Linked DNA regions of Homo sapiens. The protein of the gene in region 2 interacts with the protein of the main gene of each other region in a pairwise test. Each region holds a gene or a part of one and is shown on either strand. Other genes may lie near its edges.

Region 1 (4,451 bases), on a different chromosome or scaffold from region 2:
TTTCTACCCTCTCCATCCCTCCTTCCCTCTGAGGGCTTGACCTTCACTGACCTCCAGGGCAAGAACAACCAAGAGTTGCTCCCAAGAGGGCTTCCCTCCTCCTCGTTCTGTGTGGCCTCAGAAGTGAGGGAATCTCAGTGCTCTGTGCAGGCATGTGCTTATTCTGAGCTCTGTTTGAAATTAAACATGAGGTGTACTAAAGATTTAAATCGAGCAAACACCTCTGTGATTTCCAATTGGATTCTGAGGCGCTTACAGAAATATGAAGTCCATTTTGATCTACTCTTAGAAACAAAAGCTGCCCATGATTTCACCACAGAAAGTCTGCCTCATTTGCAGTTTAGCGGACTCACAGAGGTGACCCTAGATCTCTGTCTCGCCTTTGTTTGGTTTATTTCCACATTGCATTTGCGTTTCCCGCCTGGCTAGTTCTTGATCATTGAGGAAGGCAGAGAGAAACGAGATTCTCTGCTCTGGGCCAGGCATTCTCTGTACACGTTCCTGGTTCCAGCCTGCCTCCTTCCCTAGAGGATCACCGTGTCCAGCCCTGAAGCTGGAGCGAGTGTTCCTCACTTAGAGATGAGGCGATGAGGCGGCGAGCTGGGAGAGGGCTGAGCAGCTGGTGAGGGCAGAGTTGGGACTCAAACCCAGGCCCGACCACCACCCAGCTCTCCTTCCACCGCACTGGTCCACCTCCTGACCGTACGTGGGGAGACCCACGCAAAGGCCCAGAGAGGAGAAGGCCAGCAGTGGGCAGAACAGAGTGGGCCGCAGGTTTTGGCAAGCCTGGAGGGGAATAGGTCAGAAAGGTAGCCCGGCTGGGCTGAGAGACTGAGGACAGGGGGTGTTAGGGTGCTGACATTCTGGCAAGGGGGCGGGGGTCTGTGGAAGACAACCCCAGGCTGGGGTGGCTTCTCTCAAACCCGGGCATGCACAGTGCTGGCCGTATCGGTCCGAGCCCTCGGCTGCCAGGGAGAGAAGCTGAGCTCCCACCAAAGCATAAAATCCAGGCCAGCGAGGGGCAGCCAGACCACGGGAAGACAGGAGGAACCCGGACCTGGCTCTCGTGCAGGAAGCAGGCAGTGCACAGCTCCGCCGCCACAGAGACAGCCTCCTCTCATGACCCCAGACTCAGCCCGGGCCGTGGTGGGAACGATGGTTGGCCCGGTTTGGAGATGGGGGATCTGGCCCTGTGGTGAGTGCACCCAGAGCAGGTGTCTCTCCGGAGCAGTTGAGTAGAACAGCTGGCGTCACCTCTTCATGTTGACGAGGGGAGATGAGTGGCCCAGGCAGTTCCTAGAGCGGGGGAGATGGAGTGGGCCGTATCCCACCCAGCAGGAGCGCTTGCTTCTGAAGCTCCCGTGCGTCTGTGACAGAGGCTTGAACCCCCGGCTTGTTCTCTCACGTCTGTTGCCGTAAATCTGTCTCCATCGCCTGGCACATAGGAGAGGCTTGGCAAATATTTTTGGTTCACTGAAGAAAGGCAGCCCTCACTCCTGCTGCTCAGACAGCACCCCCTGAACGTGAGTTACTGCCTCCTTGAGCACTTTCGCAGGAGAGAAGACCAGAGAGCTGCCTTCAAAGATGCCAGAGCCATGTTTATTTAAGCGGCGCTGCTCCAGAGAGAACTGGCCATTTGCAGTCTCCACCCCAGTGTGGCTCACGATGCCACCTCTCCTTGCCAGCTCTCACCGAGGCCCCCGGTGACCTCCTAGGGGGTACATCCAGCCAGGTTCCCCCTCAGCAATGGCCAGGGGCCACCGTGGGCCACACTGCACTTCCCAAATGCTCCCGGCACTGGCACAGATGCACACCCTCTTGGCCATCCCCACCTGTGCTCCGCCACTCTTAGTCAGCCATTCCTCTCGGCTTCCGGGAGTCCCCTCCTTCTCTAAGGATCTCACCCCCATCCGTGTCTCTGCTGTCTCCTAACTACCGATAGCAAGGGCACTAGTGCCCCTGTTTGCCGGGGACAGGCCCTGTCTGGGGCCCTGGTGTGGCATCATTGTTAACAGAGCTTCTTTTCACTCTGAAGTGTTCAGTTAGGACAGTCACTTGCACAGTCCCCTCACTGGTGACACAGACACCCCATACCTGTGTGTTTCCCCTGCATAGCTCAGCAGCAGCTCAGGCTCAGCACGGCCAAGGCTGAATGCAGATGCCCTCCCTCCAAAACCTGGCCTCCTCCAGCTGTTCCTTCCTGGCGAGGCCACCTCCAACTGTGTAACACAGAAGCCTGGGTGCCATCCCTGGGGCTCCCCTCACCCCCACCTCCCACCCGTCCCCGGGCCCCTGGACAGACCACTGGCCTTGTTCTCTTCATTTCCCTGGCCCAGGTTACAAAGTCTCCTTCCTGATTATGTGCATTAACTAACCTCGCAGGTGCTCTGCCCACCTGCCTACGCCAGACTCTTCCAGATCCTTCTCCACCCCAGCAGGCAGAGTTGTCATTGTGAAATGCAAATCAGGTTCCATCTCTCCTCTCCTTTCCTACCTCCCACCATCCCCGTCACCCTCCCTGTCACACACAGCCCCCTCCGTGGCCTCTCAAGCCTGCTGTGGCCTGACCCTCCCCTCTGCTTTTCCAGGCCCTCCTGGCACTGTCCTCCCTCAGTCTGGGACTCCCTGTCCTCCCTCCTTCCTGCGTGGCACATGCTCCTCCCTCTTCTTGAAACGCTCTCCCCTCCCTGCCTCCCAGGCAATGCCCACTCTGCCTCCAAAGTTCATCCATCGTCCTCTCCTCAGGAAGATTTCCCTGGTGGCTTGACTAGGTCACAGTCCCCCTTTATTTGCCGTCTTCTCACTGGGGCCTCTCCTTCCTGGTAGCTTCTAAACAAGGCAGTTTCATGTGTGTATCTCCACTAGACTAGACGCTCTCTGAGGGCAGGGACCCTGCTTCGCTTCTGGCCCGAGGTGGCTGCAGGGTCTGCAAGATCATCAGGGCCCCCTCCAATGTGACACTTGCAGAGGGGACCCCTGGCCTGGGGCCACGCTGGTTACTTGGGTACACTCCTTGCCCAGGGTTCCACAGCCCCTTAAAGGCAGGGTCTTTCTGGCCACGCCTGGCCCTGGTCTGGCCTCCCCAAGGAGCCCTGCCGCTGGGGGTGCTGTGTGGGAACAGAGCACAGGCCCTCCCTCCCAGAGCCCACGAGATCTCACTTTCTCCAAGCCCAGCTCCCCAAGGACTCAGACCCCAGTTGCCCTGCACTGAACGCTGGCTTGCCCTAGCTCACTCGGACCCCACCCTGCACTGGGAAGGAGGGTCCCTGTCCCCGTTTGACGGGTGACGACACTGAGGCCCAGAGAGCTGAAGGGGCTGGCCGAGGGGACGGGCTTGGGCGCTTCCATTCTCACACTGCTGCCGTGACACCTAATCCATCCGGGGAAGTTCCCTTTAAACCCAAAAGGGGACGGTGAAGCCACACGCGGCCGCCCTTCTCAGGAGCCCACTTCCACCTCTCGCAGGCTAGACAGCGTTCCCCAAGTCCCCCCTTGAGCTGGGTGGGCTGCCCAGCTGTGAACACAAGGACACCTCCGATTTCGTCCTGTGAATGTTGATATTAGTGGTCCCTTCCTTCAGGGGCTGTGGGGATCTCAAAAGATAAGGCAGGTCTGGAGTCCTGCGCGGTACCTGCCGCATGGCAGGCTCTTTACGGACAGCGCAGGGACGCACTTTGATGCTGAAAATGAGTCTCTGGGACAGATGGATCCCAGTCTGGGTCCTCGCAAGCGCTGTGCACCCCGTCGCCGCGAGATGGCGGTGTTGCGCCCCTCCAGCCTCCTCTGCTCTGCGCTTGGGCGCTGAATGTTAAAATTCCTAACAGGTGAATCGCTTGAATCCGGGAGGCGGAGGTTGCAGTTGGCCGAGATGGCGCCACTCACTCCAGCCTGGCGACAGAGCGAGACTACGTCTCAAAAAAAAATAAAAATAAAAAAATAAAATCCTAACAGGTAGCATACCTGCACTCGGAACTTGCACAGCCGCTCCCCACTCTCTCACAGGGATTAGGTAACGATACTCAGAGCTAGAGCAGGCATTTGGGACTGCCCAAACCAGCTGCTCTTCCTGCTTTCTGAAGCTTCCCCGGGGGAATCTTCTGGCTCCCAGTCCGAGCCTCCTGTGGTCAGCTCCTCCTTGCCCAGTCGTCGTTTGCAGTACAGCAGGGGCGTGGTCATTTGCAAATGTCCCAGAGGGCCCCCTCCAGTCGCTTCACATCGGTCTCAAGTCGGGCTGACTGAGGGCATGACTTTCTGTCTCAGGCATGGAGCCCAGATCACAGATCGAAACTCCGCTAAATCTAGAGGCCACGGGTCCCAAACACCAGTCATTTGCTGAGCACTGTCGCAATTTTTTTATATCCCTCCCATCAATACAAGCTGGATTTTTTTATTAAGTAGAAGCTAAAAGTAAAAAGTAATATAAAAACAAAACAGCATTAAACTTCAGTTAG
Region 2 (7,034 bases):
CTCCATCCTTTAGTCTAATCTCCCTGTCCTTTGTTCTGCAGGATAGTACAGTGGCTCAAGCCTATAATCCTAGCGCTTTGGGAAGATGAGGCAAGATGAGCGCTTGAGCACAGGAGTGTGAGACCAGCCTGGGGAACACAGTAAGACCCCATCTGTATACAAAAATTTTAAAAATTAGGCCTCGCATAGTGGCTCACGCCTGTAATTCCAGCACTTTGGGGGGCCAAGGCAGGTGGATCACGAGGTCAAGAGATGGAGACCATCCTGGCTAACACAGTGAAATCCCGTCTCTACTAAAAATACAAAAAATCAGCCAGACGTGGTGGCACGTGCCTGTAGTCCTAGCTACTTGGGAGGCTGAGGCAAGAGAATCGCTTGACCCCGGGAGGCGGAGGTTGCAGTGAGCCGAGATCGCGCCACTGCACTCCAGCCTGGGCAAGAGTGAGACTCCGTCTCAAAAAAAAATAATAAAATAAAATAAAAATTACCCAAGCATGATGGTATACACCTGTAGTCCTAGTTACCTGGGAGGCTGAGGTGGGAGGACTGTTTAAGCCCAGGAGTTCGAGGTTACAATGGGCTATTGCACCACTGCACTCCAGCCTGGGTGACAAAGTGCAACCCTATCTTTAAAAAAATAAAAAAATAAAAATAAGGACTCAGATGAGATTTAAAAGAGGCAGTGGATGCGTCACTGTGCCCTGAAGTACGCCTAATCAAGAATAGCCTTCCTGCTCTTTGAGGCCTACTCTCAAAATAAGGAAAAAAATCAACAGCCAAAAAATGAAGAGCCTGATGATAAACTTTTTTTTAAATTTTTTTGAGATGGAGTCTCACTCTGTTGCCCAGGCTGGAGAGCAATGGCATGATCTCGGCTCACTGCAACCTCCGCCTCCTGGGTTCAAGCAATTCTGCCTCAGCCTCAAGAGTAGCTGGGACTACAGGCGCATGTCGCCACACCCAGCTAATATTTTATATTTTAGTAGAGAGGGGTTTCACCATGTTGCCCAGGCTGGTCTCCATCTCTTGGGCTCAGGTAATCCACCCACCTTGGCCTCCCAAAGTGCTGGGATTACAGGCGTGAGCCACCGCACCAGGCCAGGTAAACATTTTTAATGGATCATACTTTTCTTACAGTTAAATTATTGGTAAAAATTTTCAAAGTTCATCACATTCTTAGGCTCCTAATAAATCAAACATTAATTGGGGCTAGAATAAAGTATTCTGGCTGGTAGGCTTGTTCCAATGTCAGACCAACTCCTTTTTCCAAAAGGCCACAAAAATATACTAGTCTCTTCATCAATAATATCAGGCATGAATACTACCATGAAAAAAAAAACAGGGTGAAATTTGTGGAAACAAGATTCTCACTGGCCTCTACTTTCCATAACTAGGTGCAACGGCTGCAAGACTACACACAGCCAATCCTCATTATCCTCAGGTATCACACCTGTGAATTCAACCACTCATTAAAATTTCTAACACTCAAATCAATACTTGTAGCAGTTTCTTTTTTTTTTTTTTTGAGACAGTCTTGCTCTGTCGCCCAGGCTGGAGTGCAATGGCACGATCTCGGCTCACTGCAAGCTCCGCCTCTCAGATTCATGCCATTCTCCTGCCTCAGCCTCCTGAGTAACTGGGACTACAGGCGCCCGCCACCACGGCTGGCTAATTTTTTTGTAGTTTTAGTAGAGACAGGGTTTCACCGTGCTAGCCAGGATGGTCTCGATCTCCTGACCTTGTGATCCGCCTGCCTCAGAATCCTAAAGTGCTGGGATTACAGGCGTGAGCCACCGCACCTGGCCAACCCTCAGTAATATTCTTTTAGGCTTAGCTAGACTTTTGAGAACTCTAGCCCCTAGCCACAATAGCACTTTGCCACTCATCCCTCTCCTGCCAAAAGCCTCTGACTCCAGCCAAATCAAGCCGATTGCTAGGCCTTATCTAGATTCAGTACCTTTCTATTCCCTGCTCATGTGATACCCCTCCGCCTGAAGGGCCCATCTACCACACCATTCCCTTAGTTTTCCACGCCTATAATCCTAGCACTTTGGGAGACCCAGGCGGGAGGATTGATTGAAGACAAGAGTTCAAGACCAGTCTAGGCAATAAAGAGAGACCTTGTCTCTACAAAAAAAAAAACAAACGATAAAAAAAAAAATTAGCTCGGAGTGGTGACACATGCCTGTAATCCCAGCTACTTGGGAGGCTGAGGCTGGTGGATTGCCTGAGCCCCAAAAGTTGGAGGCTGCTGTGAGCCACAATCACGCGATTGCACTCCAGCCTATGCGACAGAGTAAGGCCCTGTCTCACAAAAATAAAAATAGAAGATTCCTTACCCTCCACTAGTAACAATTTCCTTTAAATAACCTTCAAGAGCTCTTAGGCAGACCTCTTTCAATAGGACCTTTTCCGACATGACCCTCTTTTTGAGACAGGGTCTTGCTCTGTCGCTCAGGCTGGAGTGCAGTGGCGTGAACACAACTCACTGTACCCTTGACCTCCTAGGCTCAAGTGATCTTCCTGCCTCAGTCTCCCAAGTAACTGGGACCACAGACAAGCGCCATTAAGACTGGCTATTTTTTTTTTTTTTTGGAGAGATGCGTCTTACCATGTTGTCCAGGTTGGACTTGAACTCCTGGGCTCAAGCACTCTTTTCACCTTGGCCTCCCGAAGTGCTGGGATTACAGGCATGAGTTACCATACTCGGCCTCTGACCCCTTTCTATTCTGCATTGTCACCATTATCTGCTGACCTTAGCTACTCATCCATAAGCTTTTTTGAGGCAAGATCCATAGCTCTGTGTCACTGTAGCATCTAACATGTACAGTGTAGCAGATGTGCAGTGGATCACAAATAATGGAATGATTACCCACTATTAACTCTAATATCCTGTCTCACATTTGTCACATTCATTACTTCCAGGGTTTAGAAACCCAAAGCTACGGGAATCCAATGCTTATTTTGAGCTTTATCCAAAATTCAACTAAACATTAGTCAGAATATTACTTTGATTACTCCAAGAAAACAAATACTGGCACACTGCTGTTTTAAAACCTCACATTCATTTTTACCAAGAGCACTGGCTGAGTAACATACTGTGTTCAAGGGTTGGGGACACAGAGGTGACTAGTTCACACAGAGGCCTATTTTCAGAGATCTTGTGGTAGAGATGAGACATGTGTGTTGATGGCTACAGTAAAGGTGCTACACAAAAGTCATGAATACAGTGCCTTAGGAAGAGAATAACGAAGAAGAAGCTCTGCCCGATAGATCAGGCTTTACATACAGGCGTCTCCAAGCAGAAAAAGGCACAACAGTAGAGCAATGGACATGTCCAAAGTCCAGGATGTGGAAAGTAGGGTGTGGCTGGAAGGAAGGGTGAGGACCAGAGATGCTGCTGGAAATCAGGCAGTGCCAAGTACACTAAGACTCTAATTGGCCAGTCTGAATGAGCCGTCCTTTTTAACAAGCTTTTCTGAGGTTTCAAATGGGTAGTTCAATTTTCAACAAATAAAAGGGTGGCCAGATTATAAAGAAAATTAGGTATTTACCAATCATCCTCATCTAATAAGTAACTAATTCAATAAAAATATATTGATTATCTTCTAGGAGCTAATGAAGACAGAAGACCTGCTCCCTGTGGTTAAAGACATTTAGAAAACTCATACATTGAGCTTCAAAGCCTAAATATGGTAATTTACTTCTTTTTGTTTTTGAGACAGGGTCTTGTTCTGTCACCCAGGCTGGAGTGCAATGGCGTGATCTTGGCTCATTGTAAACTCCGCCTCCCAGGTTCAAGCCATTCTCCTGTCTCAGCACCTCCCCAAGTAGCTGGGACTACAGGTATGCACCACCACACCTAGCTAATTCTTGTATTTTTAGTAGAGACAGGGTTTCACCATGTTGGCCAGGCTGGTCTCAAATTCCTGACCTCAAGTGATCCACCCGCCTCGACCTCCCAAAGTGCCTGGGATTACAGGCATGAGCCACCGCGCCTGGCCAAAATGGTAACTTACTTCTGAACCTAGTTCAGTGAACTTTTCCCTAAAGACAGAAAAATATTTCACTAGCTGAGATAGATACAGGTTGAGCAACCCTAATCCAAAAATTTGAAATGCTCCAAAATCTGAAATTTTCTGAGCACTAACATGACACAACAAGTGGAAAATTCCACCCCTGACCTTATTTGAAAGGTCACAGACAAGAGGGCAGTCAAACCTTTTAGTCCAGGCAACATACTTAGCCCAGCCTGGCTCTACAAAAAATAAATTAGCTGGGTGTGGTGGCATGCACCTGCCAGCTACTGAAGTAAAAAGATCACTTGAGCCCAGGAGTTTGAGGCTGCAGTGAGCTATGATTGCATTGCTATACTCCAGACTGGGTGACAATGAGACCCTGCCTGTAAAAAACAGAAACAAAAATATCACAAACAAAAAAACAAAGCACACATTGTTTTGTGTATAAAATTATTTAAAGTGTTGGCCGGGCAAGGTGGCTCACGCCTGTAATCCCAGCACTTTGGGAGGCCGAGGCGGGTGGCAGGAGATGGAGACCACAGTGAAACCCCGTCTCTACTAAAAATACGAAAAAAGTTAGCCGGGTGCGGTGGCGGGCGCCTGTAGTCCCAGCTACTCAGGAGGCTGAGGCAGGAGAATGGCGTGAACCCGGGAGGCAGAGCTTGCAGTGAGCCGAGGTTGTACCACTGCACTCCAGCCTGGGTGACAGAGCAAGACTCTGTCTTAAAAAAAAAAAAAAAAAATTATTTAAAGTGTTGTATAAAATTACCTTTGGCATGTATAAGACATATACAAAATACAAATGAATTTCATGTTTAGACTTATGTAAATGCAAATGTTTAAACTTATGTAAATGCAAATATTAAAAAAAAATATCAAAACAGTTCTGGTCCCAAGCATTTTGGATAAGGGATACTCAACCTCTATTGGCTTAAGATAAAACAATAGCATGAGAAAATAATGGTAGAAGCTCAAAGTTCATTGTGCCTACTGACTGCTGGTTATAACTGTCATTTCCCCTTACATCGCTCTCTGTGATGGTGATGGGAAGGCCGCGCAGCATGATGGTCTTGCTCTCCCTCTCGTCACTGATGTCATGCCTATAGTCGTGCTCACCATAGTCACCATCTGAATGGTAGCCATCTTCGGATCGGTCACTGTTCCTTCTTTCACGCTCTCTCTGAGTTACAATAAACAAAATCACAATTAACATCACCCTGTACTCTTTGAAACAGACCCTCCACTCCTAGAAATTATCCTTAGCAGGAAGTGTACAGAGATTACACAAGCACTCCATGGTAATGTTCACTGCAATTTTTTTTTTTTGAGACAGGGGTCTCACTATGTTACCCAGGCTGGTCTGAACTCCTGGCCTCAAATGACCCTCCTGCTATGGCCTCCCAAAGTGCTGGGATTATAGGCACACCCAGCCTGCTGTGTTTTCTTTTTTTTTTTTTTTGAGACAGTTTCACTCTTATTGCCCAGACTGGAGTGCAGTGGTGCGATGATCTCTGCTCACTGCAACCTCTGCCTCCTGGGTTCAAGCAATTCTCCTCCTTCAGCCTCCCGAGTAGTTGGGACTATAGGCACTTGCCACCACGCCCAGCTAATTTTTTGTATTTTTAGTAGAGACAGGGTTTCACCATGTTAGCCAGGATGGTCTCAATCTTCTGACCTCATGATCCGCCCGCCTCGGCCTCCCAAAGTGCTGGGATTACAGGCGTAAGCCACCGTGCCGGCCTTCTGGTTTTTTTTTTTTTTGAGACAGAGTCTCCCTCTGTCGTCCATGCTGGAGTGCAATGGCATGATCTCAGCTCACTGCAACCACTGCCTCCCAGGCTCAAGCAATTCTCGTACCTCAGCCTCCTGAGTAGCTGAGGTCGCACCACTGCACTCCAGCCTGGGTGACAAGACTAAAAAGCTGTCTCAAAAAAAAAAAAAAAAAAAAAAAAAAAAGATATATCAAGATGACCAAAACAACAACTTATATTTATTATTTTTCATTATTATTATTTTAAAGACAGGGTCTCCCTATGGTGCCCAGGCTGGCCTCTAACTCCTGGGCTCAAGGGATCCTCCTGCCTCGGCCTCCCAAATTGTTGGGATTACAGGTGTGAGCCACTGTGCCTGGCCAACAACTTATATTTATCATTCATTTCAAAACACAGAACTAATATGTTATCATAACCCCATTGTTTCATCTTTAAAATGGGAATAACACCTACCTTATCAGGTTGTACTGAGACCTAAATGAATTCATGAAGTCAAGTGCTCAAAAGTACATGGTGATCCCTATGTAAACCCTGGCCATTATTTCTTTTCTTTTTTTTTTTTTTTTGAGATGGAGTCTTGCTTTGTCACCCATGCTGGAGAGCACTGATACAATCTCAGCTCACTGCAACCTCCGCCTCCCAGGTTTCAAGTGATTCTCTTACCTCAGTCTCCCAAGTAGCTGGGATTACAGGCGCCCACCACCCCACTCAGCTAATTTTTGTATTTTTAGTAGAGACGGGTTTTACTATGTTGGCCAGACTGGTCTTAAACTCCTGACCTCAAGTGATCTGGCCGCCTTGGCCTCCCAAAGTGATAGGATTATGGGAAGGGGCCACTGGACCTGGCTGCCTGGCTGTTATTTCTATTACTATAAGGCTCAGAGTGTTTTGGGGGGTTATACAGCCGCTGGTCACTCACCTCTGGACTGTCATAGTCTCGGTAGTCATCATATCTATCACCCCTCCGATCATCACTAGATCTTTTGTAATCTGAGTCCCTCCGCCTGCTTCGGGATTCACGCTCATCACGGTCATCCCTGTCTATGATGGAACCGTATCTTCCACTACGCTCTGTTCTACTCACTCTGCCAGGGAAAATAATTTTCATTCTAAAGTCAGTCACATTTTGTACCTTTAAAAGACATAGTTAAAAATACACACGGCCCACAGATCAGTTTATAAGATAATCCAAATAGTTTAAAGTGTTAAAAAGTATTACCAAATTCCAGTTTACTAAGATAAC

Evidence for each region.
Region 1: the proteins of RBM5 (region 2) and MLYCD interact in binary tests that used the Homo sapiens proteins (3 or more experiments, as listed by UniProt).

The regions. Positions count from the first base shown.
Region 1 is NC_000016.10:83,923,084-83,927,534, forward strand, and holds the end of MLYCD (malonyl-CoA decarboxylase, mitochondrial), read left to right. Parts: 3' UTR 1-3,948; downstream 3,949-4,451. UniProt on the Homo sapiens protein: Catalyzes the conversion of malonyl-CoA to acetyl-CoA.
Region 2 is NC_000003.12:50,091,885-50,098,918, reverse strand, and holds part of RBM5 (RNA-binding protein 5), read right to left. Parts: intron 6,877-7,034; coding exon 6,711-6,876; intron 5,200-6,710; coding exon 5,044-5,199; intron 1-5,043. UniProt on the Homo sapiens protein: Component of the spliceosome A complex. Binds to ssRNA containing the consensus sequence 5'-AGGUAA-3'. Regulates alternative splicing of a number of mRNAs.